Homo sapiens: one gene and its partners. The protein of the gene in region 1 purifies or fractionates together with the protein of each later gene. This does not show direct contact. Each region holds a gene or a part of one and is shown in the gene's direction. Other genes may lie near its edges. The genes, in order: C11orf54, TKT, COL10A1, SERPINB5, BCAT2, SDF2 and WDR1.

What was found.
Region 2: the proteins of C11orf54 (region 1) and TKT fractionate together in Homo sapiens (co-fractionation; one large-scale study listed by BioGRID). This does not show direct contact.
Region 3: the proteins of C11orf54 (region 1) and COL10A1 purify together in Homo sapiens (co-immunoprecipitation; one large-scale study listed by IntAct). This does not show direct contact.
Region 4: the proteins of C11orf54 (region 1) and SERPINB5 fractionate together in Homo sapiens (co-fractionation; one large-scale study listed by BioGRID). This does not show direct contact.
Region 5: the proteins of C11orf54 (region 1) and BCAT2 fractionate together in Homo sapiens (co-fractionation; one large-scale study listed by BioGRID). This does not show direct contact.
Region 6: the proteins of C11orf54 (region 1) and SDF2 fractionate together in Homo sapiens (co-fractionation; one large-scale study listed by BioGRID). This does not show direct contact.
Region 7: the proteins of C11orf54 (region 1) and WDR1 fractionate together in Homo sapiens (co-fractionation; one large-scale study listed by BioGRID). This does not show direct contact.

Annotation. Positions count from the first base shown.
Region 1 is NC_000011.10:93,747,919-93,752,384, forward strand, and holds part of C11orf54 (ester hydrolase C11orf54), read left to right. Parts: intron 1-2,427; coding exon 2,428-2,526; intron 2,527-4,466. UniProt on the Homo sapiens protein: Exhibits ester hydrolase activity on the substrate p-nitrophenyl acetate, in vitro. Regulates DNA damage and repair by regulating HIF1A degradation via chaperone-mediated autophagy (CMA).
Region 2 is NC_000003.12:53,231,352-53,235,817, reverse strand, and holds part of TKT (transketolase), read left to right. Parts: intron 1-643; coding exon 644-835; intron 836-2,543; coding exon 2,544-2,662; intron 2,663-4,267; coding exon 4,268-4,461; intron 4,462-4,466. UniProt on the Homo sapiens protein: Catalyzes the transfer of a two-carbon ketol group from a ketose donor to an aldose acceptor, via a covalent intermediate with the cofactor thiamine pyrophosphate.
Region 3 is NC_000006.12:116,120,771-116,124,098, reverse strand, and holds part of COL10A1 (collagen alpha-1(X) chain precursor), read left to right. Parts: intron 1-2,137; coding exon 2,138-3,328.
Region 4 is NC_000018.10:63,496,946-63,501,411, forward strand, and holds part of SERPINB5 (serpin B5), read left to right. Parts: exon of another isoform or gene 1-558; intron 559-2,174; coding exon 2,175-2,342; intron 2,343-4,466. UniProt on the Homo sapiens protein: Tumor suppressor. It blocks the growth, invasion, and metastatic properties of mammary tumors.
Region 5 is NC_000019.10:48,797,478-48,801,676, reverse strand, and holds part of BCAT2 (branched-chain-amino-acid aminotransferase, mitochondrial isoform a precursor), read left to right. Parts: intron 1-1,379; coding exon 1,380-1,490; intron 1,491-1,576; coding exon 1,577-1,696; intron 1,697-1,838; coding exon 1,839-2,002; intron 2,003-4,199. UniProt on the Homo sapiens protein: Catalyzes the first reaction in the catabolism of the essential branched chain amino acids leucine, isoleucine, and valine. May also function as a transporter of branched chain alpha-keto acids.
Region 6 is NC_000017.11:28,647,587-28,652,613, reverse strand, and holds the end of SDF2 (stromal cell-derived factor 2 precursor), read left to right. Parts: intron 1-1,071; coding exon of another isoform or gene 1,072-1,128; intron 1,129-3,337; coding exon 3,338-3,625; 3' UTR 3,626-4,268; downstream 4,269-5,027.
Region 7 is NC_000004.12:10,078,470-10,082,935, reverse strand, and holds part of WDR1 (WD repeat-containing protein 1), read left to right. Parts: intron 1-1,491; coding exon 1,492-1,579; intron 1,580-3,934; coding exon 3,935-4,045; intron 4,046-4,243; exon of another isoform or gene 4,244-4,325; intron 4,326-4,466.

The DNA of each region.
Region 1 (4,466 bases):
AGTTTCCCAAGATAAATTAGGAGGGAAGATAGTCAAAAAAAGGAAAACAAAAACGAGTACAAAAATGAAGCCAGGAATAGTTGTTATCCAAAACTGTAAAGTCTGTCAGAATACTAACCTTTATTTAACAACCTCTAGGTTCTGTTCTAATGGTAACTATAGAACCTTCGCTTGTTTCTCAAAATGTGATGTTCTGGTAGTTCATTTGTCATCCTGATAAGATTGAAGTTAAGAAATAGACTCATTTTTGCTTTGTTGTAACTTTCCTCTTATAATCTTTTTTTTTTTCCCTAATTGAATGGTAGCTAATAAACAATCTGTATTGTTTGGCCTGTATTTCTTTTTCATCAGTCTGTCTTCCCTAATATGACAGGGCAGTTAGGAATTTTTTCTTTTTCTTTTTTCTTTTTGTAGACATAGGATCTTGCTCTGTTGCCCAGGATGCTCTTGAACTCCTGGCCTCACTCGATGCTCCTGCCTCGGCCACCCAAAGTGTTGGGATTACAGGCATGAGCCACCATGCTTGGCCAGATTTTTTCTTTGATTGCTTTTCTAGAATCTGTTTTCACTTTTGTGTTTGTTTCTATTTTCCTTCTATATGTGCAGGATATATTCAGAAAAAGTAGAAATTTTATGGCCTGGCACAGTGGCTCATGCCTGTAATCTCAATACTTTAGGAGGCCAAGGTGGACAGATCACTTGAGGTCAGGAGTTCAAGACCAGCCTGGCCAACATGGCAAAACCCCATCTCTACTAAAAATACAAAAATTAGCTGAGTGTGGTGGTGTGTGCCAGTAATTCCCGCTATTCAGGAGTCTGAGCTACAAGAATCACTTGAACCTGGGAGGCAGAAGTTACGTTGAGCCAAGATCGCGCCACTGTACTTCGACCTGGGCAACAACACGAGACTCAGTCTCAAAAAAAAAAAAAAGAAAGAAAGAAATTGGCAAGGTGCGGTGGCTCATGCCTGTAATCCCGGCACTTTGGGAGGCTGAGGCAGGCAGATCACGAGGTCAGGAGTTCAAGACCAGCCTGGCCAACATGGTGAAACCCTGTCTCTACTAAAAATAGAAAAAATAGCTGGGTGTGGTGGCGGGCGCCTGTAACCCCAGCTACTCGGGAGGCTGAGGCAGGAGAATGGCGTGAACCTGGGAAGCAGAGGTTGCAGTAAGCCGAGATTGCGCCATTGTACTCCAGCCTGGGTGACAGGGTGAGACTCCATCTCAAAAAAAAAAAAAAAAAAAGACATTTTGTAAGAACTTTTGATCCTTAAAAGTACATAGGCTGATGCAGTGGCTCATGCCTATAATTCCAGCATTTTGGGAGGCCAAGGTGAGCAGATCTCTTAAGCCCAGGAGTTTGAGAGCCACCTGGGCAACAAGCCAAAACCCCATTTTTACAGAAAATACAAAAATTAGCCAATCATGGTGGCATCCACCTGTAGTCCCAGCTACTGGGGAGTTTGAGGTGGGAGGATTACTTGAGCCTGGAGATCAAGGCTGAGTGAGCCAAGATCATGCTGCATACCACTGCACTCCAGTCTGGGCGACAGGGTAGGTAAGGCTATCAGAGTGAGACTCTGTCTCAAAAAAAAAAAAAAAAAAAAAAACTGTTGAGGCTAGGTGTGATGGCTCATTGTAATCCCAGCACTTTGGGGGACCCAAGGCAGGAAGATCACATGAGTCCAGGAGTTCGAGACCAGCCTGGGCAATATAGCAAGACCTGGTCTCTACATATAAAAGAAAAAAAGAGAGAGGGAAATACATTGGTCTTACATTAATAACTTTGAGACACCTATGCTTTTTTACATTGTTACTGAGGTATAACTATCTACAGTAAAGTATGCTAATCTTGAGTGTACAGCTTGATGAATGTTAACAATAGTTACACCTATGTAACTACTATCCAGATCAAAATGTAAAATATTTCCAACATCCCAGAAGGCTCCTTTGCACACCTTCCCAGTCAGCCTTGATCCATTGCCTGTTTCTGAGATGCATAAGGTGAAGTAATATTGTATGTAGTGTTTTGTGTCTGGCTGCTTTGTTCAACATATTGTCTGTTACCTTCACTGAAGTTGTTACATGTGATTGCTTACTTTTTAAAAAGTTTAAATGTTTGCATTTCAGTTGGTTTTTGGAATCTTCTCTCAAAAAAGAAGGTAATCCTCACCCTCACACAAGTGCAGGCTGTTTATCTTCAACAGTTGAAAATCACTGTAGAGGAAGTATTTATATATCTTAGTCTACGTTGTATCTTGTGATTATGTCTAATGTCTAATTATATTCATTAATAAGACCATTTCCCCCTTCTTTTTTATTATACAAGTTGAGATTGGGAGTGTGTTGAGAGCCACATACCACTTTTGATACGTGGTAGCCAAGTTTTTACCTAATGTTAAATAATCTTATTCCTTGTCTTTATTAGTTATGCAGAAGGGGTTAAAAGATAACTTTGCTGATGTCCAGGTCTCTGTAGTTGATTGCCCTGATTTGACTAAGGAACCCTTTACCTTTCCTGTAAAAGGTAAGCAATTTTTGCAATTAGCTTTTGTTTTTTAGTCATAATCTTTTTCTGAAACTAGAATTATTTTTAAGGACATCTTAAATTATCTACAAATAAAGGATATTGTCACAACATTTAGGCTAAATTGTGCCAAATTTCTGTGCTCACTCTTCTGATATTGGTTAAATTTCATTTCATACTCTTGTGGAAAAGGATTGTGTTTTATTCACTTATGTAACCTTCACAGATTGTAGAATAGATATCCAATAGGTTAGAATTCTTTGTATCACACGAGAGTTTTGCTTTTAATTGCTCAGACTGTTATGGAAACTGATTTTAATTTTTATGATTTTATTTATTCAAGACCAGAAGGGATCCTAAAAGCCTTGTATTTGAATGATCTGTTAAAACTAATCCTTCAACAAATTTGCCAAGTGAGCATCCACTGTTTGAAGTGAGAAGGAAGGGAAATTAGTATTAGAAGAATAAAATAATTTGTCAGTATGATAGATAGTTAGTTGATGTTTCAGTTTTTACAATAACACCACAAGGTAAGTAGTAGCCCTTGTTTATAGATGAGAAAACTGAAAACGAGAGAGGCTAGATAAGCTCAGTGTAAATCATAACCAGGATTCAAATGCAAGTCTGTTTCCAAAGTCTAACCCCCTCCTGTTATACCCTATTATGATGAGGAATTTGAGGATAAACACTCAAAGTGTTCTTTTTATTATGTAATTAACATCTTTGCTAAAAAGGAGTTTGCCATAGAAATTCTGGACTCTAGTTCTGTCTTAGAACAAACCTGACTTTGAGATAACATTAGCATGAGGGGATTTGAATTGAATGTTTTTTGGGGGCCTTTACAGCTTAAACAATCTTTGATTTTAAGTAGAGCTGTAAATTCTAGAAGGCTTGTGTACCATGTGGCAATTTCTTTTAGCTTCTTCAAAGGATTTAGCATAGTACTTTTTTATAGTTTTTTTTTTTTTTTTTTTTTTTTGAGACAGAGTCTCACTCTGTCACCAGGCTGGAGTTCAGTGGCGCAATCTCAGCTCACTGCAACCTCTGCCTCCCAGGTTCAAGCGATTCTCCAGCCTCAGCCTCCTGAGTAGCTGAGACTACAGGCATGTGCCACCACGCCTGGCTAATTTTTTGTATTTTTAGTAGAGACAGGGTTTCACCGTGTTAGCCAGGATGGTCTCGATCTCCTGACCTCGTGATCCGCCCACCTCGGCCTTCCAAAGTGCTGAGATTACAGGCGTGAGCCACCACGCCCAGCCTTGATTTTTTTAAAAATATGAGTGTAATGTATTTCCCCTGCTAATTAAGTAATTAACTAAAATTAAATAAAGGTCAGGAGACAGAAGAGTACAAGAAAGAAGGAAAAATGGTTAATCTTTTTTTTTTTTTTTTTTTTTTTGTGTGTGTGTGTGTGAGATGGAATCTCGCTCTGTCGCCCAGACTGGAGTGTGGAGTACAGTGGCACAATCTTGGCTCACTGCAATCTCTGCCTCCCGGGTTCAGGCGATTCTCATACCTCACCCTCCCAAGTAGCTAGGATTACAGGTGTGCACCACGACACCTGGCTAATTTTTGTATTTTTAGTAGAGACGGGGTTTCATCATGTTGGCCAGGCTGATCTCGAACTCCCAGTCTCAAGTGATGTGCCCGCCTCGGCCTCCCAAAGTGCTGGGATTACAGGTGTGAGCCATCATGCCCAGCCAAAATGGTTAGTCTTAATTTTGTCATGCAGAGTTATGCTTGGAAGAAGTGTTTTCTGGTCAGTAATTTGTGAGTCTTTAAATTGCAATACTAGAAGCCAGATATGCATCTAATATGTGTATGTATGATCTTTCATAAACATAGGAGTTTAAGACCAAACTGGCCAACATGGTGAAACCCAATCTCTACTAAAAGTACAAAAATTAGCTGGATGCAGTGGTGTGTTAGACATTTTCTAC
Region 2 (4,466 bases), on another chromosome or scaffold:
AGCCAGGTGCAGCTTCAGTCTTGGGGTCAAGAGCTAGTCTTGGAAGCTTGGGGAGAGCCTGTCCCAGGAAGCGCCTGGTCCTCAAGTGCCCTCTGCTCTATCCTCCCCAGAGCCCTCTTGCTCCAGGGTGTTGCCTAGAGTGCCTCAGGCCTCCTTGGCCCACCTCCCTCCTCCGGGCAGAAGCAGAGCTTGGTTCCCAAGGTTCCCCTTTCCCACTGGCCCACCCAGCCAGTCCCAAGGCCTCCTCCAACCTCTGGTTCACAGCGGGGTCTGTCCCCTGCAGCAGGTGGCTCAAGCCTATTCACCCACCCTTCCTCACTTTCCTCTCATTCCAACAACCCCCATTTTTCTAGATCTTATTAGCCAGATCCCTGTTGTCCTAGACCTCTGTTTCTTAACAACCAGTACTTCTTCCTGAGCTCCTGACGTCTTCCTTCATGCCATTTTCTCTTGGGGTGTGGCTTGTGGTAGGCTGCAGGAACCTGGTGACACTGTTGCCCCTCGAGTGTAAATGCCATCTGTTCTGCATATCCATGCGTGGCTGCTCCTTTACCCAGAATGCAGGCTCCTTGGATGGGTGGGGGGGTGGGAGCCAGCTGGGTCCAGGTGAGAGGGACTGGCCTGATTCACTCTCTGTCCACAGCTACCGAGTCTATTGCTTGCTGGGAGACGGGGAGCTGTCAGAGGGCTCTGTATGGGAGGCCATGGCCTTCGCCAGCATCTATAAGCTGGACAACCTTGTGGCCATTCTAGACATCAATCGCCTGGGCCAGAGTGACCCGGCCCCACTGCAGCACCAGATGGACATCTACCAGAAGCGGTGCGAGGCCTTCGGGTATGTACGAGGCTGTGGCCTGAGTGTGGTCACAGCACGGGAGAGTGGTCTGTGATCACAGCTTTGCAGGTGCAGGTGCAGGAGCTGAAGCTGGGACCTTAAGCACCATCTAAAGGTCCCTTTCTTTAGCATTTGACTCACAATTTCAAACTCTAGGCATTTGGACTTAATGGCTCAGGATATGTGGGCCAGGCCCAGTTTTAAGTGAGTTTCCTTGTTTTCGTGGTTGTGGCATGGTGGCTCTCGGAGCTTCCACACACCATCTCACGTCAGCTCGCTTTGTTCTTGAGGAAGGAGGGTTCTTGAGGGATGGGGGCTTGCTCGGTAAAGCTAAAGGATGTATAGCTGCGGAGAGGTTTGAACCTCAGTTTGGTGGCCACGTCCTGTGCCCAGCCCCGCCCAGCCTGGGGAGGAGGAACAGGCTCCTGGTGAAATGGGAGATAGGGTTTCCAGATGCCCCCCTTCGGCCTTGATTGGTTACAAATTCAGGGTCAAAGGGCACAAAGCAGGGAGGTCAATCTGCATGGGTGTCAGCCAGAGGGGCTCCACCTCAAAGCCTCCACCGGTGTTGCCAAACACAAGCTGCTCTGCACAGGGGCCCAGCATTGGCTGAGGAGGCTGTGGAGGGGAGGGAGCAGGGCAGGTGCCGTGCAAGGCTTTGAGACTCAGGTCAGGCCTCCAGGACTGCGTTTTGCGGATGAACCCATGCCTGTGACTACACTAAGTAACAGGATGCTTGGGGTTACCTTGCAGTAGCACAGCATACGCAGGCCTGTGTTCCCTGATGACTGACCTCAGAAAGGGAGAGGAGGAAGGGAGGAAATAATCTCTGTTGGACAGGCGAGGAAACTGAGCCACAGGGTCCTCACCCCACAGGCCTCCCCAAGGCCACATCTATCTGGGGACTCAGAGTACAACCCCAGCAGCACCCCCAGGACCTGTGTCCATAACCTCGTGACTCAAGCCAGATTCCTGAAGTCCTGGCTCCACCGCTAACTTGCTTTGTGGCGTGGGTCACGTTACTTACTCCACCTTCGGTGTCTCAGTTGATTTGTCTGTACAATGGGGCCAGCTCAGCACCCAAGCATGGCGTGGTGAGGCTTCAGTGGGCTAATATGGGTAGTGGTTGGCATGGCACTCAGTTTGAGAAGTGCTATTTTTATTCTTATGTCAAAAAGAGTCCCCAAAAGGATAGCTTTTCAAGAGAAAGGGTGCTCTGCCCCAGCTCCTTCCTGTATATTTGACTCCATGGTTCATTTCAAAAACATTTCCAGCACCACATCCAGCATCTGTGGAGTGATCAAATGTGTTCCCCAAATAAGAATTGGGCCAAAAAATTCATCAAGAATCTAATAGCAGACAGATTCCAAACCCAGTGCGCTGACCCCAGAACAGCTTTCAGTAGGAAATGAGCAGATCAGGAATGAAAGAGACAATAAAGGAACTGAGCTCTGGATTACTTAAGAGGAGGAGGAAAACCTGTTCAGAGGCAAACAAAAGGAAGTAAAATAATGTGAAAAAGAAAAGGATTTAAAAAACCCAAACTGGAAACAGGAATGTTGCAAGCTTTCTACTACTCCAGCTGAGGCCGCAGTTGTGGGGTGGAGCCTGGGCAGACCCCAGCTGCCAAGGCAGACCTTTCCCTGGAAGGCTCCTCGGTGTTGTGGCCCCTGGGAATTGCCCCTTACTCTCTGCCCCCTGTCCCCAGTTGGCATGCCATCATCGTGGATGGACACAGCGTGGAGGAGCTGTGCAAGGCCTTTGGCCAGGCCAAGCACCAGCCAACAGCCATCATTGCCAAGACCTTCAAGGGCCGAGGGATCACGGGTCAGTATGCACAAGCCGCCCTCCCCACCTTCACCCCTCGCCCAGACACTGTGGCTACGTAGCTCTGACCCGCACATCCAGGGAAACAGCCCTTGCTGCTCACTGAGCTCACCAGGCTCCAGGGAAGGGGAGCGGGAGATGCTGTGACTCAGTGACCCCTGTGGCTGAGCCAGGATTTAAACTCAGATCCGTCTGGCCTCTGCCGGTGGGGGCATGTACAGGCAGGAGGAGAGGAGGGACTTGGAGGGTCTGTGGGTGAGAGGAAGGTCGTGGAGTGAGGCAGCCCCCGTGCCCCACCCTGGCTGGTGCCTTTCAGAGCTGCAGCTGTGTGTGCTCTGCCAGCTCCGGCCACCTGCTCCAGCTGAAGGGCCGACACAGAGCCAGGCAGGGCCCGGAGAGAACTGTTCCCTCCAGGAGGTGAGTGGGGTACTCCTCAAGCAATGGCAGATGCTGAGCAAGGCCTGTGTGGGCCAAGAGCCTTGGGGGGTTTGGAACCTGGGTTCTGCCCCAGGCCGGAGAATGAGGCAGGCGTAAGTCACTCCCTGGCACCCAGGTGTGGGCTTCAGATTCCTAGGCCTGGGATGGCCTCACCCATTTTAAAGATGGGAAAATGAGACTACAAGTGGTCAGGGACTTGCCCGGGGACAGAGGAAGTCTATGGCACGAGGGGGGCTGATCCCAGGGCCTGGGTCGGCTTCCCTGCCAAATGCCCCTGGCTGCCCACCTGCCTGCTCTCAGGGGTTGTGGCTTGTTCTGCCCATGTAGACTCAGGTATATGAGGATGTTCTGAGTGGGGGTTTGGCAGTGCTGGGAGGTGTCTGGGAGGGGGTGGATGTCGAGGAAAGGGCTCTGGGATATTGTCATGGCTTTGGTGCTGCTGCCTGGCACTGCCCTCTGGTGTTAAAAATGGGCAGGATCTGGACCACTTGCAGCTTCTTGGGGGCTCCTGCTAGTCTTTCGGGCTGCTGGGTGCTACCTGGGAGTTCAGTCTGTTCTTGGCTCTGGCCAGACTCTAGTGACTACTGAGGTGACCTCCAGGGAGAGGGATATTCAGCCTTCCTGGCCGCACACAACAAGGTGCCATGGGGTGGGCATGCCTAGGTGCTTATAGACTCCTCTGCTGCTCACAGATGCATTGGGTGACCCTGGAAGCCCTGTTCTGGGCCTTGGGTTCCCCTTCTGATGGCCAGGGTCCCTTCCAACCCAGTCGACAAACTGAGTATTTCTGCAGCAGACACCTCTACCTGTGTGTGACCCTGCAGGCGGGGTTGTGGGGAGGAAGAGAATGGACACATTGGTGAAGGGATGGGGCAGTGGGCCCAGAAACACACACCTGCCCACGTCTGGCCCCTCCTTTCCCACTCAGCTGTGAGCTCCCAAAGGACCAGGCAGTAGACAGTGAGTGGTGGGCACGTAGGAGTCCATCCTATTCACTGCGACCCTCCTTTCCTGGCCCCCGTGCCTGGCTGGGCTCTGCCTGTCTGGGATGATGCCATTCCTCCCTTGCCCTCGGCAGGTAGAGGGCCAGTCTCCTGGAGCAGCCTCCTGGCCCTCTGGGAGCTTCTGTCTTACCCATTCCTCTGTCCTCCCGTGTTGGGTCTGCAGGGGTAGAAGATAAGGAGTCTTGGCATGGGAAGCCCCTCCCCAAAAACATGGCTGAGCAGATCATCCAGGAGATCTACAGCCAGATCCAGAGCAAAAAGAAGATCCTGGCAACCCCTCCACAGGAGGACGCACCCTCAGTGGACATTGCCAACATCCGCATGCCCAGCCTGCCCAGCTACAAAGTTGGGGACAAGGTACA
Region 3 (3,328 bases), on another chromosome or scaffold:
CTTTTGAATGTCTCAAAATATAAATAAAAATTTTAAAATTTAAAGGCTAGTAAAGAAAAAAATAAAAGACAAAGCAACCTTCCGCTTTACTTGAAGCAACAAACACAATTTGAAATGCTATGACAAACAGCACTGGATTCAATAGTTTCCATGATCACAAAAATCAGACTTTTTAACACCTTAATAAGAGCATAACAAAGTCTTGAATTAAAAAGAAAATGCACTATTTTAGAAGGTTAAAAATACTTTGATCTTCTCTTAATATACACCATTATCTTGGCTACTTTTGCAGAACAAATGAAAATATCTTAACAAATGAAAAGTTCAGAAGCTGTATTTAAACTACTAAATCCACCTTAGTCTCTTTTTAGATAGACACTCAACTACACTATCATCCATTGGCAGACATTAATGCACCATAACAAACACAAAAGCCCACAGTCTATACAAGTAAGACATTAAGTTGAAACAGGAATTCAAAGAGTTATTACATAATTCCTAGGCATATCCATCCAACACAGGTTAAAAAAGAGTTCTGTCAAAACATACTAAATTATGCTGCAGAGGATTCCACAGCTGGTGGGCAGATGCACGTGCCACATTCTGACACAACCAATCACGATTTCAGTTTGTGGCATTTAAAAAACTTAATAGAAGGAAGTAGTCGTTTTACCTTGAGGATTGTGCCACCCTAATCTTGAATGAAGAAAATTTTTTCAGATGACAACCTACAAACAGGGGCTGTCCCCCAAGCATTCAATAGAAGCCAAATTCTTTCTCGCACTGAGAAGTTGAGACCCATTAGGACAACATTCCAAGTGACAAAGTTCGCCCTGTCACTGGAGTTCCAGTCTCGGATGACGCCCAATGCACTCATTTCCATTGACTTGTTTCTCCTTTTTAATAGTAAAACAGATTTCCAATCAGACTAAGACAATTATTTTTAGTGTGAACATGACCCTTATAATCAGATTCTAAAGCAAAGCTCAATCTAACATAGTTGGCATTTTAAAAAATCCACTATTTTATTCCTCCAACCCATTAAAAAATTCCTTATTTATTCCTCTATTTGCAATATATCAATATCCACTTATACATAATATAATCATGTATGTACACTACAATCAATGAAATATTTAATATACGGAAATCTTTTACATAAATTTTTCTCACAGTCTTTTTCCTGATGTCATTTTCTGAAAATCCATGGGGAAAGCTCTATGTATTTATATTAATCAATGTTTTCAAATTGAAATATAACTCTAATTAGTAAAAAAAAATCTAAATCTGAAACAATTATTTTCCTATTTCGGCATATCTATTTTAATGATTCGCTCTGCATTTATATACACCAAATGTTTTCCAAATCTCAGAAACATCTGTACCCTGTGCTTTCCCCATACTTGTGGCCCAGCCGCATTTTTCACATCACAGGCACTATGATTTTTAGTTTAAGTTTAGTTTATCAGGTCAAGTGAACTCACAGCTCTATGAAATCAAACACTATATATTTGTATTTAGGTAAGAACTTTAATACTATTTTATGTACCTCACCTATTATGTCTAATTCTCTAGTTCTTTGTTTCAATTTTAAGTCAATAATGGAGAGTATAAGAGCTCAGAGTATATTCTGAGGTAAAAGTAAATCAACCAAAATCTAACCTGTGTTCAGCAGAGGCATGGCAGATGTAAATCAGAATTAATTCTGTTTCTCTTTTATGTCTGACAGGGTAGCTTTGGGAGGGAAAATTTTTATAGTTCTTAAACATTTTCTCACTTATTCTGCACTGTCTTTTTCTGCCTTTTCTGTACATGATTTTCCCAAAATAAATGTACTAAATTTACCTCCACTGCACTTATTCTAGAGGAATTCTTCAATCCTAGCTCATTTTCATGAATCACTGTCATGGGATAAAAGTATTATGGTAGCCATGGTTTTGTGAAACCATCTTCTCCAGCAGAATTTTTTAAAACAGTATAAAACATATAATCTAAAACCATTTCAGACTGTTCTGTCTACATGGAATAAATGATGCTGAAATATCGTGTCCCAATTCATAGTTTGAAAGGCAATGATTCTCTTTAATGTCACTAACCATCCCCTTCTATGGGTGGGTGTGTTGGGTGTGTCTTTTAGGTATAGCAGTAAGAGGAGAGCAAGGTACTCCTGGTCCACCAGGCCCTGCTGGACCTCGAGGGCACCCAGGTCCTTCTGGACCACCAGGAAAACCAGGCTACGGAAGTCCTGGACTCCAAGGAGAGCCAGGGTTGCCAGGACCACCGGGACCATCAGCTGTAGGGAAACCAGGTGTGCCAGGACTCCCAGGAAAACCAGGAGAGAGAGGACCATATGGACCAAAAGGAGATGTTGGACCAGCTGGCCTACCAGGACCCCGGGGCCCACCAGGACCACCTGGAATCCCTGGACCGGCTGGAATTTCTGTGCCAGGAAAACCTGGACAACAGGGACCCACAGGAGCCCCAGGACCCAGGGGCTTTCCTGGAGAAAAGGGTGCACCAGGAGTCCCTGGTATGAATGGACAGAAAGGGGAAATGGGATATGGTGCTCCTGGTCGTCCAGGTGAGAGGGGTCTTCCAGGCCCTCAGGGTCCCACAGGACCATCTGGCCCTCCTGGAGTGGGAAAAAGAGGTGAAAATGGGGTTCCAGGACAGCCAGGCATCAAAGGTGATAGAGGTTTTCCGGGAGAAATGGGACCAATTGGCCCACCAGGTCCCCAAGGCCCTCCTGGGGAACGAGGGCCAGAAGGCATTGGAAAGCCAGGAGCTGCTGGAGCCCCAGGCCAGCCAGGGATTCCAGGAACAAAAGGTCTCCCTGGGGCTCCAGGAATAGCTGGGCCCCCAGGGCCTCCTGGCTTTGGGAAACCAGGCTTGCCAGGCCTGAAGGGAGAAAGAGGACCTGCTGGCCTTCCTGGGGGTCCAGGTGCCAAAGGGGAACAAGGGCCAGCAGGTCTTCCTGGGAAGCCAGGTCTGACTGGACCCCCTGGGAATATGGGACCCCAAGGACCAAAAGGCATCCCGGGTAGCCATGGTCTCCCAGGCCCTAAAGGTGAGACAGGGCCAGCTGGGCCTGCAGGATACCCTGGGGCTAAGGGTGAAAGGGGTTCCCCTGGGTCAGATGGAAAACCAGGGTACCCAGGAAAACCAGGTCTCGATGGTCCTAAGGGTAACCCAGGGTTACCAGGTCCAAAAGGTGATCCTGGAGTTGGAGGACCTCCTGGTCTCCCAGGCCCTGTGGGCCCAGCAGGAGCAAAGGGAATGCCCGGACACAATGGAGAGGCTGGCCCAAGAGGTGCCCCTGGAATACCAG
Region 4 (4,466 bases), on another chromosome or scaffold:
AGAGCAGGGAGAGACCAAGGGCTAAAGTTGGGAGACTGAGAAAATGCAGCCCACCGGGGCATTACTTATTTCTCCAGCTCTGATCCGCTGTTGTACTAGGGGTCTAATCCGGCCTGTGTCTGCCTCCTTCTTGAATAGCCCAGAGCATTCATCTAAACAGCCTTCCTACAGCAGCTCCCCACTTTAGGTGTGGCCAGACAGGAGTTCTAGACCAGGTTGTCTCCTGGGACATTGACACCGCAGCCAAGTTTATTGGTGCTGAGGCAGACACAGTTGGTGTGGTTGGTTCAGGGGCTAGCATTGGAATAGCGTTTGGCAGCTTGATCATTGGTTATTCCAGGAACCCATCTCTCAAGCAGCAGCTCTTCTCCTATGCGATTCTGGGCTTTGCCCTGTCTGAGGCCATGGGGCTCTTCTGTTTGATGGTCGCCTTCCTTATCCTCTTCGCCATGTGAAGCTCTGTGGGGGTCACCTGCCTGTCCCTGCTGCTGCGGCTGCACACCATTCTTGGTGCTGGGCTGTGCTAAGCTTTACCATTGAACACAACGTTTCTGAAAAAAAAAAAAAAAGAGCCAAGCATACAGTGGAGCTCAAAGGGACTTAGAGATAATTTTAAAAAGACTTAGAGATAATTTTAAAGAACATTTTCCTTTTTAAAAATTATGCAATACTCCAAGCATTCAGAAAATGATAGAGAATAATAAAACGAACACCCATATACCGATCAATCATCTTTTTGAACTTAATATTTTGCCTTAATTATTTCAGATATTTTAAAGAAAAAATATAACAACAGTTGCATTGCTTTGTATGTATCCCTTCACTGCTCACTCCACTGTCCTGTTCCTCTTTCTTCCTCCCCAGTGGTAACCATTATTCTGAATTTACAATTTCTTCATTCTACTGACAAGAATACTGAGGCCTGGAGAGATTGAGTGATTTGCTCAAGGCCACAGAATCTGTTTATGTCACATTTGGGACTAAAAACCAAGGTTCTTATCTTCAATTTAGACTTTGTTAATTAGCTCAGATCTGAGTAGGTGGCAGTACAGTGGGGAGTGGGCAATTCAAACCAAAGACAAACAGAGAGGTCACAACAAATATTGTTTTGTTCTGCTATGTGCTAAGTTTGTTGTTGTTATTGTTCTGTTTTGTTTTGAGATGGAGTCTCGCTCTGTTGCCCAGGCTGGAGTGAGTGCAGTGGTATGATCTTGGCTCACACCAACTTCTGGCTCCCAGGCTCAAGCAATTCTCCTCCCTCAGTTTCCCAAGAAGCTGAGATTACAGGCGTGTGCCACCATGCCTGGCTGACTTTTGTATTTTTTAGTAGAGACAAGGTTTCACCATGTTGGCCAGGCTGGTCTTGAACTCCTGACCTCAAGTGGTCTCCCAAGGTGCAGGATTACAGGCATGAGGCACCGTGCCCAGCCAGTTTTTGAAATTAGGCATTTTATTAGGAAAAGCCGTATAAATGGTTATGTGGGTTTGCAGTAGAATTTACTTTCAAGTCAGCTCCACCAGGAATAGTTTAAAGATCTCATAGGCATCTGTAAAGAATAACAAACGTTGCCTATATTTACAGCCATACAGTCTTATTTTTAAGGTTTGATCTATGCAAATACAGTATTATATATACTTCATGTAATGTGTAACATGTAGATTATAAAGTATATGAATAACTTTTCAAAGGAACACAAACTCTTCACAGGACAGTCTCTGGTTTCAGTGCAATACAGTTTGGATCTGAGTGGATGATGAATTATAAGCCATAATAATCTGACACTGTGTCAAGAGCAAATTTGTGTATATATATATATGTACATATATATTTATGTGTTTGCCTATATATGTGTATATATGTGCATGTGTGTATATATGTATGGGGTATATATATATAGTATGTATATATAAGTGTGTATATATAGGTGTGTGTATATGTATATGTATGTATATGTATGTATGCATATATATGTATATGTGTATATATAGGTGTATGTATATATGTATGTGTATCTGTATATATATAGGTGTAGGTATATATGTATGTGTGTCTGTATATATACATGTGGGTATATATGTGTGTGTGTGTGCGCGCGTGTGTGTATATATATATATATATATATTTATGCATGTGTAAATTGAAAAGTAAGCAGTCCAAATTTTCCCTTTTACAGACAGACACCAAACCAGTGCAGATGATGAACATGGAGGCCACGTTCTGTATGGGAAACATTGACAGTATCAATTGTAAGATCATAGAGCTTCCTTTTCAAAATAAGCATCTCAGCATGTTCATCCTACTACCCAAGGATGTGGAGGATGAGTCCACAGGCTTGGAGAAGGTAAGGAGAAGGCAGGTGCTCTCCACAAAGGCACCCCCTGCCTTGGCAAAGAGTTGTGCCAACAGGTCTGTGTGGGCCGTGAGAGCTGGGCCGGTAGCCCTCCCTTATTGCCACTGGCTCAGTCACCTCCAAGGACCCATGGTTCTTTCTGGGGCCTTTCCTCCTTAATATTAACAACAGCCAAAATTTATTTGGCACTTACAGTGTTCTAGGGACTGTGCTAAGTTGCCTACGTGCATTATCTCATTTAATTCTTACAGCAGGCTGATGAGTTAGAGACTGTTACCACACTCTTGTTTACCAGTGAGGGAGCTGAGGCACAGAGGGGTGGGTAACTGGTTACATAATTAGTCAAGGGTGTGTGCAGGATCAGGATTTGGGCCCAGGTAGTTGGAGCCAGGTTCTTAACTGAAGGCTAGAGTGTCTCCCTCACCTCCTAGGCAGTTAAGGCACTACGTTGCTACGCACTGCCAGGTCCACTATCATGTGACCTGATGTCAAGCATCCTCTCTCTTGCTCTTTCTTTTTTTTTAAAATTAGTAGATGTTATTTTTAGAGTAGATCTATGCCTACAGAAAAATAAGCAGAAAGTACAAGGAGTTCCCATATACTCCCCTTCCCGTCCCAGGCCTACAGTTTCACCTGTTATTAGCATCTTGCATTAGTTTGGTATGTTTGTTACAATTGATGAGCCAATACTGACATATTACTATTATTATTATTATTATTATTATTATTGTTTTAGAGACAGGGTCTTGCTCCATTGCCCAGGCTGGAGTGCAGTGGCATGATGGTAGCTCACTCTAACCTCAAACTCCTGGGCAGGCTGGAGTGCAGTGGCATGATGGTAGCTCACTCTAACCTCAAACTCCTGGGCTCAAGTGATCCTCCTGCCTCAGCCTCCCAAGTAGCTGGGACTAAAGGCACACAGCACTATGCCTGGCTTTTTTTTTTTTTGTAAAGGTGGGATCTCACTGTGTTGTCCAGGCTGGTCTTGAAATCCTGGCCTCAAGCAATCCTCAGCCTCAGCCTCCTGAAGTGCTAGGATTATAGGCATGAGCCACCACACCTGGCCTTCACAATTTACGTTACGGTTCACTCTTTGTGTTGTACATTTATGAGATTTTAATACGTACACATATATGCTTCAAAATTTTGAATTATGCAGATACTATTTTATAGTACACATTATATATAAGTATTTTATTTTATATGATAAGGGTTATTATATTATTTTATTTATATAGATTTTTAAGGCACAAAGTTTAAATAAGAGTAGCAGTTTTCTCTGCAGGTGAATGGAGTTTTAGCTTCCTCTCTGCTCCCTCACCTCTGCTTAGCTGGCTGAGGCCTGTTCTCCCTTTAGTCCCTCCCTGGCTTCCATTCTAGCTCCACCCCGCCTGGCCTCAACCCTTGGCCAGGAAGGAAGAAGGGGCTCTTTGAAGGCCTGGATCACTTGCTATATATCCACATGGGCCTCAGTGATTTGCTGACTTTCCAGGGGACCATCCAGTCTCCAGCTTGCTCCTTTGGTTGCCATTATGTTTTAGCCACCACTTTATTAACTGAATTATAATTCCTGTCCTTCTTCTTCTTTGGTGCATTACTCTCTCTGTTTTTTTTCTTTCCATTTTATGCTTTGATCTTTCAGCCATTATCCAGCTGTCTTGGATTTTACCTTTCGTTCTTAAAACGCCCTCCAATAAACATCAATTATTTTCTTCTTCTTCTTCTTTTTTTATTTCAATAATTTATTTTTCTTTTTTTTAATTATACATTAAGTTTTAGGGTACATGTGCACAATGTGCAGGTTTGTTACATGTATATACATGTGCCATGTTGGTGTGCTGCACCCATTAAGTTGTCATTTATATTAGGTATATCTCCCAATGCTATCCCTCCCCCCTCCCCCCACCCCACAACAGGCCCTGGTGTGTGGTGTTCCCCTTCCTGTTTCCAGGTGTTCTCATGGTTCAATTCCCACCTATGAGTGAGAACATGCAGTGTTTGGTTTGTTGTCCTTGTGATAGTTTGCTGATAATGATGGTTTCCAGCTTCATCCGTGTCCCTACAAAGGACACGAACTCATCATTTTTTATGGCTGCATAGTATTCCATGGTGTAT
Region 5 (4,199 bases), on another chromosome or scaffold:
AGTGAGACTCCATCTCAAATAAAATAAAAAATAAAATTCCCAATCCAAGATATAAAACAGTTATTTTTGTTTCCTTCTATAGCTTTTATGGTGTAATATATATATATATATTTTGTTTAGACTTTTAATGCACCTGGAATTTTTTCTGGTGTGAGGTGTGAAATAGAGATTCAACGTAGTTTTTCTCTAGATGGATATTTGGTTATCTATTCCATTATTCAGTCTGTCCACTCATATAGCAGTGTCACTCTGTTTTAAGTATTGTAGATTTATAATGTTTTACTACCTGATATGGCTACTCCCTGCCCCTGCCCCATCTTGCCCCTCATTTTTGTGGTGGTGGTTTTTATCCCCCCAAAATATTGTAGCTAGTTTTGCTTGTCTTCCATTCATTTATCTATTCATTCATCAAAAACCCACTATGGGAAAAAAAAAAAAAGTCTGGCTGGGTGCAGTGGCTCACCCCTGTAATCCTAGCACTTTGGGAGGCTGAGGCGGGTGGATCAACTAAAAATACAAAAATTAGCTGGGCGTGGTGGTGGGCGCCTGTAATCCCAGCTACCCAGGAGGCCGAGGCACAAGAATCACTTGGACCTGGGAGGCGGAGGTTGCAATCAGCAGAGATCACGCCACTGCACTCCAGCCTGGGTGACAGAGTGAGACCCTGTCTCAAAACAAAACAAAACAAAACAAAACAAAAAAACACTCTGTGCCAAGCGCTGCCTACCCTGGTGCATGGGACTGCAGGAGAGGCTGTCTGGTAAACGTGTCAAGGGTAATCCCTGCCTTCCAGGCTCTTCCACTCTGCAGTGGAGCAGATGCTGAACAAGCAAACTTGGAACCATGGGGCAGTGATCAGGGACAGAGTCTCCAGAAAAAAAAAACTAGGTCCCAGGCTGGAGTGCAGTGGCATGATCGTGGCTCACTGCAGTCTCAAACTCCCAGGCTCAAGTGATCCTCCCACCACCTTCCAAATACCTGGGACTCCAGTCACGTGCTACCACGTCTGGCTAATTTTCGTATTTTTTGGTAGAGATGGGGTCTTGCTATAATGCCTGGGCTGGTCACGAACTCCTACACTCAAGTGATCCTCCTGCCTCGGCCTCCCAAAGTGCTGGGATTACAGTGAGCCACTGAGCCCGGTCGTGTCCTTTGCTTTCTAGAGTCTCCGTGTGTCTCTACCTGTTTGTCTCCCTGTCTATATCTGTCTCTCTTTTTCTCCATCTCTCTGACCCAGCTGCTAAATCTCCCCGGTGCTCTCCTCTTGGCCTCCATCTTTCAGTTGTCTGTGTCTTTGTGTATCTGTCTCTGTCTGTCTTGGTGTCTCTCATGACTGTCTGGAGAAGTCTCTGAGCCTCCCCACCCGCGTGTCCCCGCAGCTGTTTGAGGGCATGAAGGCGTTCAAAGGCAAAGACCAGCAGGTGCGCCTCTTCCGCCCCTGGCTCAACATGGACCGGATGCTGCGCTCAGCCATGCGCCTGTGCCTGCCGGTGAGGGGTCCCGGTCCACCGGGGTGGGGAGGAGGGCTGGGGCCGGGGCAGCAAGGGCCCCTTGACTCATTCAGAATCCCACCCAGAGTTTCGACAAGCTGGAGTTGCTGGAGTGCATCCGCCGGCTCATCGAAGTGGACAAGGACTGGGTCCCCGATGCCGCCGGCACCAGCCTCTATGTGCGGCCTGTGCTCATTGGGAACGAGGTGGGCCCAACTCCAGGGCTGGGAAGCTGGGCTGCGGGGGTTGGATTCTGCAGGGCAGGGGTGGGGTCCTGGAGGCCTGGGCCTGGGGACGGGAAGGGACTGGGGGCCTGGACTCCTGACGCTGTCCCTTTGCCCGTCGCAGCCCTCGCTGGGTGTCAGCCAGCCCACGCGCGCGCTCCTGTTCGTCATTCTCTGCCCAGTGGGTGCCTACTTCCCTGGAGGCTCCGTGACCCCGGTCTCCCTCCTGGCCGACCCAGCCTTCATCCGGGCCTGGGTGGGCGGGGTCGGCAACTACAAGTTAGGTGGGTAAGTAGCACCCCCATCCCCAGAACGACTGGCGCACTGGGCGTTGGAGACACAGGGACCAGCGTGCGTGCTTTCGGCCATGCCTCTGGATGTCACATGAAGGTGACATCATCAGCACCGTGCAGGGCTCAGTGCTAAGTGACCTCCCTGGTCCCTGAAAACAAACCATGGAAGGAAGGAGGAGGGGATTATTTTTCAGATGGACAAAAAGGCTCACAGATGGGAAGGCATTGGGTGGAGGTCAGTGGGGAAACCAGGACTGGTCCCTGGAAGCCTCCAGGAGTGAAGCTTACACTCAGCTCATTGGCTTCTCGCCCCAGAAGCCTCCCCTGATCCCCCAGGCTGGGCTGCGCTCCCCATACCCAGCTCCCACAGTCGTTTGAGCCTCCAAAGCCCCTCACCCCCGTGTGGACTTTCTGTGTAAATCTGTCTCCCAGTGGCCTCAGCTCAGCAGGGCAGGAAGGAGACAGCTGGGTCTCCTGGGCAACCAAGGCAGAGGGTGGGCACTGGCGTGTTGGGACAGGAATGTGGCCCCAGCTGGGGGTGCATTCAGGTCCTTTCAGCCACATCCTGTGAGGTCTCCTGAGGGCCAGGCCCTGTGCTGGCAGAAGCTGGGGACACAGATGAGTCAGCCCCGAGCCCTGCTCTCCTGGGTCTCCCAGGCTGGTGGGAGCCCCAGTATTCGGAGCTGCATGTTCTCTGGTGAGGTGACCCAGGGCATTGTGAAAGCCTTCACAGAGGCCAGAGGCGGTGGCTCACGCCTGTAATCCCAGCACTTTGGGAGGCTGAGGCGGGCAGATCACGAGGTCAGGAGATCGAGACCATCCTGATTAACACAGTGAAACCCCATCTCTACTAAAAATACAAAAAAAAAAAAAAAAAATTAGCCGGGCTTGGTGGCGGGCGCCTGTAGTCGCAGCTACTCAGGAGGCTGAGGCAGGACAATGGCGAGAACCCAGGAGACAGAGCTTGCAGTGAGCCGAGATCGCGCCACTGCACTCCAGCCTGGGCGACAGAGCGAAACTCCATCTCAAAAAAAAAAAAGAAAGGTTTCGCAGAGGAGGCGACCCTTCAACTAGGTCTGACGAGGAGGGAGGAGGGGGTTTCCTGGGTACAAAAGTCAGCAAACTGTTTCCAGTCCTGGGAACCATGTGTACAGGGACAGAAGGAATAGGATCACAGAAGATGTTCAGGTTACAAAAATAAGTTTGGGTTTTGAAAAATGCTTAGCAAGTATTCATTAGACCCAGGCAGGCCTGGAATGCCGGAAGGAGGCTAGGGTCTTGTCCTGGGGCACTGGGGAGCCATGGGAGGCTTGTTAGCAGCTGAGGGGAGAGGCTATCTCTGGGAGAGAGACTCAGAAAGTCATCCAGGTAGCCCAGTTCACTGGGGGAGTCCAGGGAAGGTCCAGCACCCAGCCTGGAGGTCTGGAAACACCTCTCGAGGAGGTGACAACAGAAACGGTTTTGGAGCCAGGCGCGGTAGCTCACGCTTGTAATCCCAGCACTTTGGGAGGCCGAGGTAGGCGGATCACTTGAGGTCAGGAGTTTGAGACCAGCCTGGCCAACATGGTGAAACCCCGTCTCTACTAAAAATATAAAAAGTAAGGCCGGGCGCTGTGGCTCACTCTTGTAATCCCAGCACTTTGGGGGGCTGAGGCGGGCATATAAATATAAATGTGAATATAAATTAGCCGGACATGGTGCTGCATGCCCCAGTTACTCCAGTTACTCAGGAGGCTGAGGCACGAGAATCGCTTGGACCCGAGAGGCGGAGGTTGCAGTGAGCTGAGATCGCACCACTGCACTCTAGCCTCAGCCTGGGCGACAGAGCAAGACTCTGTCTCAAAAAAAAAAAAAAGAAAAAAAGAAAAAAAGAAATGGTTTTGAATGACAGCTGAGGATTTGGTCAGTATGAAATGGGTGAGGGCTGGGCGCGGTGGCTCACGCCTGTAATCCCAGCACTTTGGGAGGCTGAGGCGGGCAGATCACCAGGTCAAGAGAGGCTGAGGCAGGAGAATCTCTTGAACCTGGGAGGCGGAGGTTGCAGTGAGCCAAGATCGCACCACTGCACTCCAGCCTGGGTGACAGAGCGAGACTCCGTCTTAAAAAAAAAAGAAAAGAAAAGAAAGAAAAGTGGGAAGAGACAGGAGAGAGGGGACATAACCATTTAGGGTCCTGATGCCAAATGAAAAGTC
Region 6 (5,027 bases), on another chromosome or scaffold:
ACTGTAAGCCAGGCGCAGTGGCTCACACCTATAATCCCGGCACTTTGTGAGGCAGAGGTGGGTGGATCACAAGGTCAGGAGTTCGAGACCAGCCTGGCTAACATGGTGAAACCCCGTATCTACTAAAGTACAAAAATTAGCTGGGCATGGTGGCGGGAGCCTGTGATCCCAGCTACTTGGGAGGCCGAGGTAGGAGAATCGTTTGAACCTGGGAGGCGGAGGTTGCAGTGAGCCGAGATTGCACCATTGCATTCCAGCCTGGGTGACAGGGCGAGACTCTGTCTCAAAAAAAAATTAAAAAAATAAAGAATTGTTACCTGTGTGTGCTTACTCGTGTATATATTACATATCTATAAATTTTTATTTGCATAGCCATCTGTATCTACATATATTAAGTTAAATGAGCTTTCTTTTTCTTTTTCTTTTTTTTTTAAGATGGGTTCTTGCTGTGTTATTCAGGCTGGAGTGCAGTGGCTACTCACAGGTGTGATGATAGTGCACTAGAGCCTCGAACTCCTTGGCTCAAGCAGTCCTCTTGCGTCAGCCTTCCAAGTAGCTGGGGATACAGGCATGCCCCACTGTGCCTGGCTAGTGTTCTTATTGATGTCTTTAGCTGTAATCCATTACCACATAGATCGTCCTAGCCTCCTCCCTGTGCTAATTTGTAAATTCCCACTCCAACAGTAAGATACCTTGTTCCTACCATCTGCCATCCATGTATTGAACTTCAGTTCAGTTCCAGTATACAAATATAGCAGTATCAGAATTACATACTGGTACCCTCCTGGGAACAATTTTATCAAGTAGAGTGTACACACACACACACACACACACTTCTGAAATAATCAGTAATTTTTTAATTGCCATCGTATAGAAACTGAATATTTGGCCTTAAGGAAGATGGGATTTAGATGAGGAGTAGAATATAGAGAACTTGCTTTCTCTCTCACTGCCTTATTAGAAAGAAAGAAAAGAATGTAGAAAACTTGCTATGTTTTGCTCAGTTAATATTTGCTATCTCATTTAATTCTCACAGTTGCTCTGTAAGGTGATATTGTGATCATTTTATAGAGGAGAAAACAAAGGCTCAAAGGATTTACAGAAGAAGGGATCAAGTTGAGATTCAAGGTCAGCCTGACTCCCAGAGTCCATTCCCTTTTGAACTTGTCATCAGGTCATTTAAAATCTAGTTAAGAGAATGAAGCAGTAATATTTAAAGTCAAATAACAAGAGATATAAAGTATTTTAAGGGCAGAATGTGGTGGCTCATGCCTGTACTCCCAGCACTTTACTACGCTGAGGTAGGTGGATCACTTGAGGCTGGGAGTTTGAGACCAGCCTGGTCAACATGGTGAAACCCCCATCTCTATTAAAAAATACCAAAATTAGCTGGGTGTGGTAGCACATGCCTGTAATCCCAGCTATTCTGGAGGCTGAGGCATGAGAACCCAAGAGGTGGAGGTTGCAGAGAGCCGAGATTGTGCCATTGCACTCCAGCCTGGGCGACAGAGCGAGATGCTGTCTCAAAAAAGTAAAGTATTTTAAAGCCAGCACGGTGGCTCACACCTGTAATCCCAGCACCCTAAAAGACCAAGTGGGGAGAATCGTTTAAGTCCAGGAGTTAGAGGCCAGCCAAGGCAACACAGTTGCCTACCAAAAAACTTTTAATTACCTGGGTGTGGTGGTATATGCCTGTTGTCTTAGCTACTCAGGAGGTGAGGCCATAAGACCACTTGAGGCACTGCACTCCAGCCTGGGCAACAGAGCAAGATACCCTAACTGTTTTTTTTTTTTTTTTTTTTTTTTTTTTGAGACAAAGTCTCACTCTTGTCATCCAGGCTGGAGTCCAGTGGTGCAATCTCGGCTCACTGCAACCTTCGGCTCACGGCAACCTCCGCCTCCCAGGTTCAAGCGATTCTCCTGCTTCAGCCTCCCGAATAGCTGGGATTACAGGCGCCTGCCACCACACCTGGCTAATTTTTGTATTTTTAGTAGAGATGGGGTTTTACCATGTTGGCCAGGCTGGTCTTGAACTCCTGACCTCAGGCGATCTGCCCGCCTCGCCCTCCCAAATTACTGGGATTACAGGCATGAGCTACCGTACCTGGCCACAATCCCAACTCTTAAAAAGAAAAAAAAAAGAAATTCTGTTTTAACACTGTAATAGAAAATATAAGGCAATTATAGTATTAATTGCAAAATAAGTGTTTGGACCATAATCTTTTTTTTTTCCTTTCTTTTTGATGCCATGACTCAGATAAGAACCATGGACCATAATCTTATAGCAATGAATTTTTTTCCTCCTATGTCCTTTATGTCTTTCGTCTTTTTCCATGGTTCATGGTTTAAACAACACTGGAGTGGCCGGGCACGGTGGCTCATGCCTGTAATCCCAGCACTTTGGGAGGCTGAGGCGGGAGGATCACCTGAGGTTGGGAATTCGAAACCAGCCTGACCAACATGGAGAAACCCTGTCTCTACTAAAAATACAAAATTAGCCGGGCATGGTGGCACATGCCTGTAATCCCAGCTACTAGGGAGGCTGAGGCAGGAAAATCACTTGAACCTGGGAGGCGGAGGTTGTGGTGAGCCGAGATTGCGCCATTGCACTCCAGCCTGGGCAACAAGAGCGATACTCTGTCTCAAAATAAATAAATAAATAAATAAATAAAATAACAACACTGGAAAGCAGCTGAATTTTTTTTTTTTTTTTGAGATGGGGTCTTGCTCTGTAATCCAAGCTGGAGTGCAGTGGTATGATCACAGCTCATTGCAGCCTTGATCCCCTGGACTTAGGTGATAGCTGTAGTAGCTGGGTACCATAGGCATGTGCCACCATGCCCAGCTAATTTCTTTTTTTTTTTTCTTTTTTTTTTTTTGAGACAGAGTTTTGCTCTTGTTGCCCAGGCTGGAGTGCAATGGTGTGATCTCGGCTCACCGCAACCTCCGCCTCCCGGGTTCAAGCGATTCTCCTGCCTCAGCCTCCCGAGTAGCTGGGATTACAGGCATGTGCCACCACACCCAGCTAATTTTGTATTTTTAGTAGAGACAGGGTTTCTCCATGTCGGTCAGGCTGGTCTTGAACTCCTGACCTCAGCTAATTTCTTTTGTATTTTTTTTAGGGATAGCGTTTCACCATGTTGCCCAGGCTGGTCTCAAACTCTTGGGCTCAAGTGATCTGCCCTGCTCAGCTTCCCAAAGTGGTAGGATTACAGGCATAAGCCTGGCCCCTCTGATTTTTTACTTCAAGGTGGCCTTCTTTTTCTTCCCATTGCCTCCCACCCCTTTTCAAGCCCTTGTCAGCCATGCTGATGTTACTACCTTCTGTATTTTCTAGGAAGTGAGTGCTTTTGGTGAGGAAGGTGAAGGTGATTATCTGGATGACTGGACAGTGCTCTGTAATGGACCCTACTGGGTGAGAGATGGTGAGGTGCGGTTCAAACACTCTTCCACTGAGGTACTGCTGTCTGTCACAGGAGAACAATATGGTCGACCTATCAGTGGGCAAAAAGAGGTGCATGGCATGGCCCAGCCAAGTCAGAACAACTACTGGAAAGCCATGGAAGGCATCTTCATGAAGCCCAGTGAGTTGTTGAAGGCAGAAGCCCACCATGCAGAGCTGTGAATCTAGAGGCTCTGAGCCACTGTTAACGCACAATGTTCACAGACATCTGTTGCTGCCTCACCTTGGGATCCCTGCCACAAGTTCCTTGGGCAGTGGCCATGTCACCATTGAGATGAAGATATACAACAGAAAATAGTGGCTGTGTTTGGAAGCTTCAGCCCTGCACATTTGAACTAGTCACTCTCCCAGACTTGCGTGGGTCAGTTCTTTCTGAGTAGAGGACTTGCTGGTAAAGGGGCAGATGCTTTTTATTAGTACTGATAAAACAAACTGAGGGAAACATCCCTCTTAGCTGGGAAACTTTTACTCTTCAGGAGCTTGGCATCATGGACTGTTAATGTATGTGATTTTCCCCCTATTTTCTCTCTCCAAAATGATAAAAACAATAATTTTATTATGAGTCACTGTGTTGTTATTTATTAGGTGTGCTATTTCATTAGCTGCTTAATCCTTTGAGTCCTAAGACTCTTTGGAGACGCTATGAAGCTCCAATGTGGGCCCTTTTAAGAGCTTTTCTTGCATACAAACCTTTTCTCCCTCTACTTTGACTTCTCTCCAGGCATCTCATCTTTAATAGATCTTTGACTAATTATAGCTAAAAACTCTCAGAGAATACAGCATAATAAATAGCCAGTGAAATGTTTGCTTTGTATCTGTTACTGCAGATGAGAAAAAGGTGTAGGGGTAGAAAGAACGAACCAGTATTTATTCACTGCTAAATACTAGGTACCATATTATAGATCTTTTTTTTTATTTATTGTTTTTTAGACAGAGTCTCGGTCTGTCGCCCAGGCTGGAGTGCAGTGGCGCGATCTCGGCTCACTGCAAGTTCCACCTCCTGGGTTCACAACCATCCTCCTGCCTCAGCCTCCCAAGTAGCCGGTGCTACAGGCACCCGCCACCACGCCAGGGTAATTTTTTTGTATTTTTAGTAGAGACAGGGTTTCACTGTATTAACTAGGATGGTCTCGATCTCCTGACCTCATGATCCGCCCGCCTCAGCCTCCCAAAGTGCTGAGATTACAGGCGTGAGCCACCGCACCCGGCCTATAGATCTTACCTCATTTAATCTTCACAGAATTCATATAGGGTAATACTGCATTTTTATCAGTGCAGCAGTTGAGTAACTGCCTGAATTCTTTTTTTTTTTTTTTTTTGAGACAAGTTCTTTGCTCTGTCACCTAGGTGGGAGGGGCACAATCATGGCTTATTACAGCCTTGACCTCCTGGGCTCAAGTTGATCCTCCTGTGTCAGTTTTTGATTTATCGTAGAGATGAGGTCTCACTATGTTACCCAGGCTGGTCTGGAACTCCTGGGCTCAAGTGATCCTTATGCTGTGTCTTCCCAAAGTGCTGGGGATTACAGGAGTGAGCCACCATGCCTGGCCTACTGCCTGAATTC
Region 7 (4,466 bases), on another chromosome or scaffold:
GGACGCCTCACTTGCTCCTTTCATCTCTCCCACCCCGTCCCCAGCATTGTTCTCCTGTTGTTGGGCCCTGAGCCCAGCACTGTGTTACAGATCCAGGTGGTCTGGGTAATGCTCTTGCCCACAGACAACGACCAGGTGTGGACTCTGCCCTGGAAGCAGGGGCAGCAGATCACAGCCCTGTTCTCCAGGAACCTGCTGCGGTCTCTCCCTGTGTCCCTTTCCTCATCAGTAAAGGCGGGTACAGTGGAGCCTGCCTCAGGCTGTTGTGGATTAGGTGAGCCTGGCACAGGGCAGGTGCTGAGTACAAGACAGCATTCCCCTTCTGCTCAAGGGTGAGATGGGCACACAGTGATCTGGTTAAAAGACAATGTCTTGTTTGTTTTTGGTCTTGGGCCTTTGATTGGCAGTCAGTGGAGCTAGGAGAGTAGCAGTTTGCAAGTGATCTGAAGTCCTAAATGCAGTTGGAGGGACTTGAAAGAGAAATGTTCCAGGACCTGACGAGGCCACTGCACATCCAGTGTCCCCATGCCCAGGTCTGACCCCTCCTCTGGCCCTACATTTCTTGTGTAGACCCCTTTGTCACCCGGTAGTCCTGCCTAAGTCGTGTTGCCTGGGAGATGGGGACTCCTGGGGCCTGTTGATGGGAGCCTGGCACAGGGTGCAGCACGCAACTCCTAGCAGGTGTGCCGTCCTTGTAGGTAACACAGGCCCTGCCTGCCTGGCAGACTGGGCATCTGTAGGTAAATTGGGCCTCCCGATGAGTGGCAGAAGCGGCCCCAGAGCCCAGGCATCTGGGCCCTGGTCCTCTTTCTACTGCCCTGTGGTGACCCCACTCTTAACACGTCCCATAAAAGGGTCTTCCCTGGGCCAGATAACCCAAGGCAAGGCCCTTACAGAGCCAGCCTTGGCCTGGTGACCTTGCTGCAGAGCCTTTGGGGATGCCACACTTGGCCGAGTGACACAGAAATTTCCTTGATTATCTCAGTTTTCAAGAAGTTTGTGTGTATGAGTCTTTCTAGAACAAGTTTTGATAGCATTGGCCAAGGCTAAAAATAACATGATTTTCACCCATTAAAGGTAACGGATTCTTAAAAGTTACCCATCCATTTTGGGGAGCAGAGCTCAATTCTGTCTGTGCTCAGTAAACTCCAGTCTTTAGCCAACAGACAGGGGGACAAAAGCCACATCTGGGTGTAATGAGGGCTTACCACAGATAAATAGGAGCATAATCAACGCCTTTCACCGCCTCCCGCCCCTCCTTCCCCCCCCCCCACCCCTCCCCGGGCCCCCATTATGACTTATAATCTCTTTGCACCAGAGTCATGGATCGTTTTTTCGCTACCATCCCATATTTTAGCAAGTCTCTCCAGTATAGGTGGCAATAGAATTGCCTTCTAAGGAGCAAAACTGTGGTTTAACAGTAAATATGTATGCATACCTACCCTGAGCTGCTGCATTGTCGAAGTAATGTGCTTCCTTTCTCTCTAACAGCGGACAAGGAGTTGTGAAACTGGACGTTCAGCCAAAGTGCGTAGCCGTCGGCCCCGGGGGATACGCCGTGGTCGTGTGCATTGGACAGGTAGGGACCTGGCTTAGTGTTTGGGTGGGAGCCTGCAGCTGTGTGGTGCCTGCTTGCTGAATTTGACTCATGTCCCGTTTGACAGTTGCTCTAGCCAGTGTTTTGGTTGAGTGCTCATTTGCACTGCACTAAGGGATCTCACATATTTAATCCTCACCACCATCACATCAGTTGTACAGATGAAGAAATGGAGGCACGGAATGGATAAATTGGTTGTCCAAGGCCGCAGCTGGTCGGAGGGCAGAGCTGGGATTTGTCTCTAAGCCTCAGACCACGCTGCCTGCCTGTCAGCCTGTAAAGTCTATGAGATACCCTGTGGGGTGGGCCTGCCTTTGCTCCTGTTCACATCCCAGCCCTGCTGCATTGTAGCTGTGTGACCTCCGGCATTTACCTCACCCTCTCTGAGCCTTAGTTTCCCATCCCCAGCACTCACAGATCCAGGTGATTATGAGGAAGTACATGTAAGTCTCCTTACACCATCTTGGTTCCTCTTACAGATGAGGAGGCTGAGGCCTAGAGCAGCTTGGTACTTTCCCACATGCAGAAGGGTGGCACCTGACTTCCCGGCCTGGCTTCTAACCCCAGACAGTGGGGCCACCTGCACACCTTTGGAATATCTGGACCAAAGCCACCTGAGACCCAAGCCTGACCCACTTTATACAGAATTCTGCCCTGCAGAAGATATTATCTGTTGGCGGGCCTAGGCTTGCTGGCATGTAGACCGGGGAAGTCAAGGGGCACCTGTTGGCACGAGTGGCGAGCCCTGCTAAAGAAAGCTGCTTTCAGCACCCTCTGGCCCTCCTTTGCCTTGTGAACTTAATTGCGTTAGGGACAGTGGATTTCTCTGTGTCCTAGATAATAAGAAATCCCTGCCAAGTAATTATTGCAAACAGCCTGGACAGCCAGTGGGGGTGGGGAGGTGCAAAGGGAATCCACACATGGAGCGCCTCGGGGCCTGGGGGAAACGCTACAAAGCGGAGTTCTAGAAGGCTGGCAGGTGGCCTATCTCTGCACAGCAGGGCTCTTCCCAGCCAAGGGGTCTGCACATGGGGCTTTGTGGGTGAGGGGATGAGGCCTAGGGCAGCGTGCCCTGTGTCTCCAGACCCAGGTTTCCTCATCTGTAAAGTTGTGGTCATCATAGGCCACCCTTTCCCCTGAGGCTGAGAGGATGTTCAGACTGGCCCAGCTGGCGCCTGCTGCCCAGGAGGTTAGAAAGGACCCCGGTAGGGTTGTGGTGTGCAGGGGACAGGCTCCAGGTCTCTGCACCTCCTCATGTGGCATTTCTCTGTGATCTGCTGTTACCTGATCCTCCCAGGGCATCTGGAACCCCTGCTCTGGGTCAGAATTTTCTGCAGAGCTCCCTGTCACCAGTCAAAGAGTTAGGAGGGTGCTAGGAGGGGCCTGGGATTTTAGATCAGGAAACAACCAGGTTCAAGTCTCATGTCGGACGAAGCTTCAGGCAAATGCTTAGGCCCTCATTCTTCACCTGTGAGTAGGTAAGGCCACCTCCAGAGCCGGGCAGATGACAGAGGTGCCTCTTCAGTAGTAGGTTTTAGTCAGGGTGCTGCTACCATTCATCGCGATCCACCCACAATCCACGCAGAAACAGAAGCCCAGACGGTAGGGGCAGAGGCTGCCTTCCCTCATGACAGCTGGTGGCTTGGGTAGGGGCACACTGGGATAAAGGCAAAACTCAGAGATGAAGGCCACTGTCTGGGAGCAGTTGAGTAAGTTAGAACCGGAAGAATTGACAAGGAAGGGAGATGGAAGGAAGGCCCCCGCTGCAGAGCCTCTGCTGCATGTACCAGAGGCAAAGGCCCAGTGCGGGTGCCGAGGCTTGGATTCTGGGCGAGTCCCGGCTCAGCCTGTGGGAACTGGAGCCTTGGGCGTGCAGCATAAGCACCGTACCCCATTTTCTTCTCTGAAACGGGGAACCCGATCCCTGCCTTGTGGGGCTGGAACACTCACAGCAGAGCGCTGGCACGTGCCTAGGGGCTGTCGCTGTTTTTGTTTACTGTTGTTAGTACCTTTCTTACCCTGAACGTTGATTCCCATCGAGGCCAAGTGACTTTCCAAGAGGTGGTGCTGTGGTGACTGCCTTGGAAGTAATGTAGTGATGACAGTAATGGTCACAGTTAGTTGTGTTTCCTGCCCCACCTGACTGGCTAGAGCAACTGTCAAACGGGACATGAGTCCAGGTGGTGTGGCTCAGAGCCCCAGGTGGCCCTGCAAAGAGGTTGGGTATGGAGCCAAACCCAGCTCCAGTGAGCCCCGACAGGGACGCGCCCCTCCTACCACTGAGGGTTTTGTCCCGAAGGGCTGGACCGCCTGACCAGCTGCCTGTGTGTGCCACAGATTGTCCTGCTGAAGGATCAGAGGAAGTGCTTCAGCATCGACAACCCCGGCTACGAGCCCGAAGTTGTGGCAGTGCACCCCGGCGGGGACACGGTGGCAATTGGGGGTGTGGTAAGTCGCTTTCCTCTCCCCCGTGCTCTCTGTCCTTGGTATCTGGGTGATTTGGGGACAGTGTGAGCTGTGTGAGTACCGGGGCTGTCTCAGGGAAGGCGAGGGGTCAGGGGAAGGATGGGGGCAGTCGGGGCGTGGGACCTGCTCTGGGGCCCAGCCACGCCATCTCCTGCCACCCAGGGCTGGAGCCTTCCCCTCCCCTCCTCGGCACTTCCCCCACCTCACTGCCCGGGTGCCCACAAGACTGTGGACAGTGAGGTAGAGGGAGTGCCGAGGAGGGCACAGCTGTGCCTCAGAGCCAGCCCCATGAGTGGCGGCAGGAGGGGAGCGCAAGAGGGTAGCAGGTCAGGAAATCAAGGAATGGCATCCCCTGGGGCTGGGCTCGGCTCACAGGTTGAAGGAAGAGTGACAGAAGTTTCCC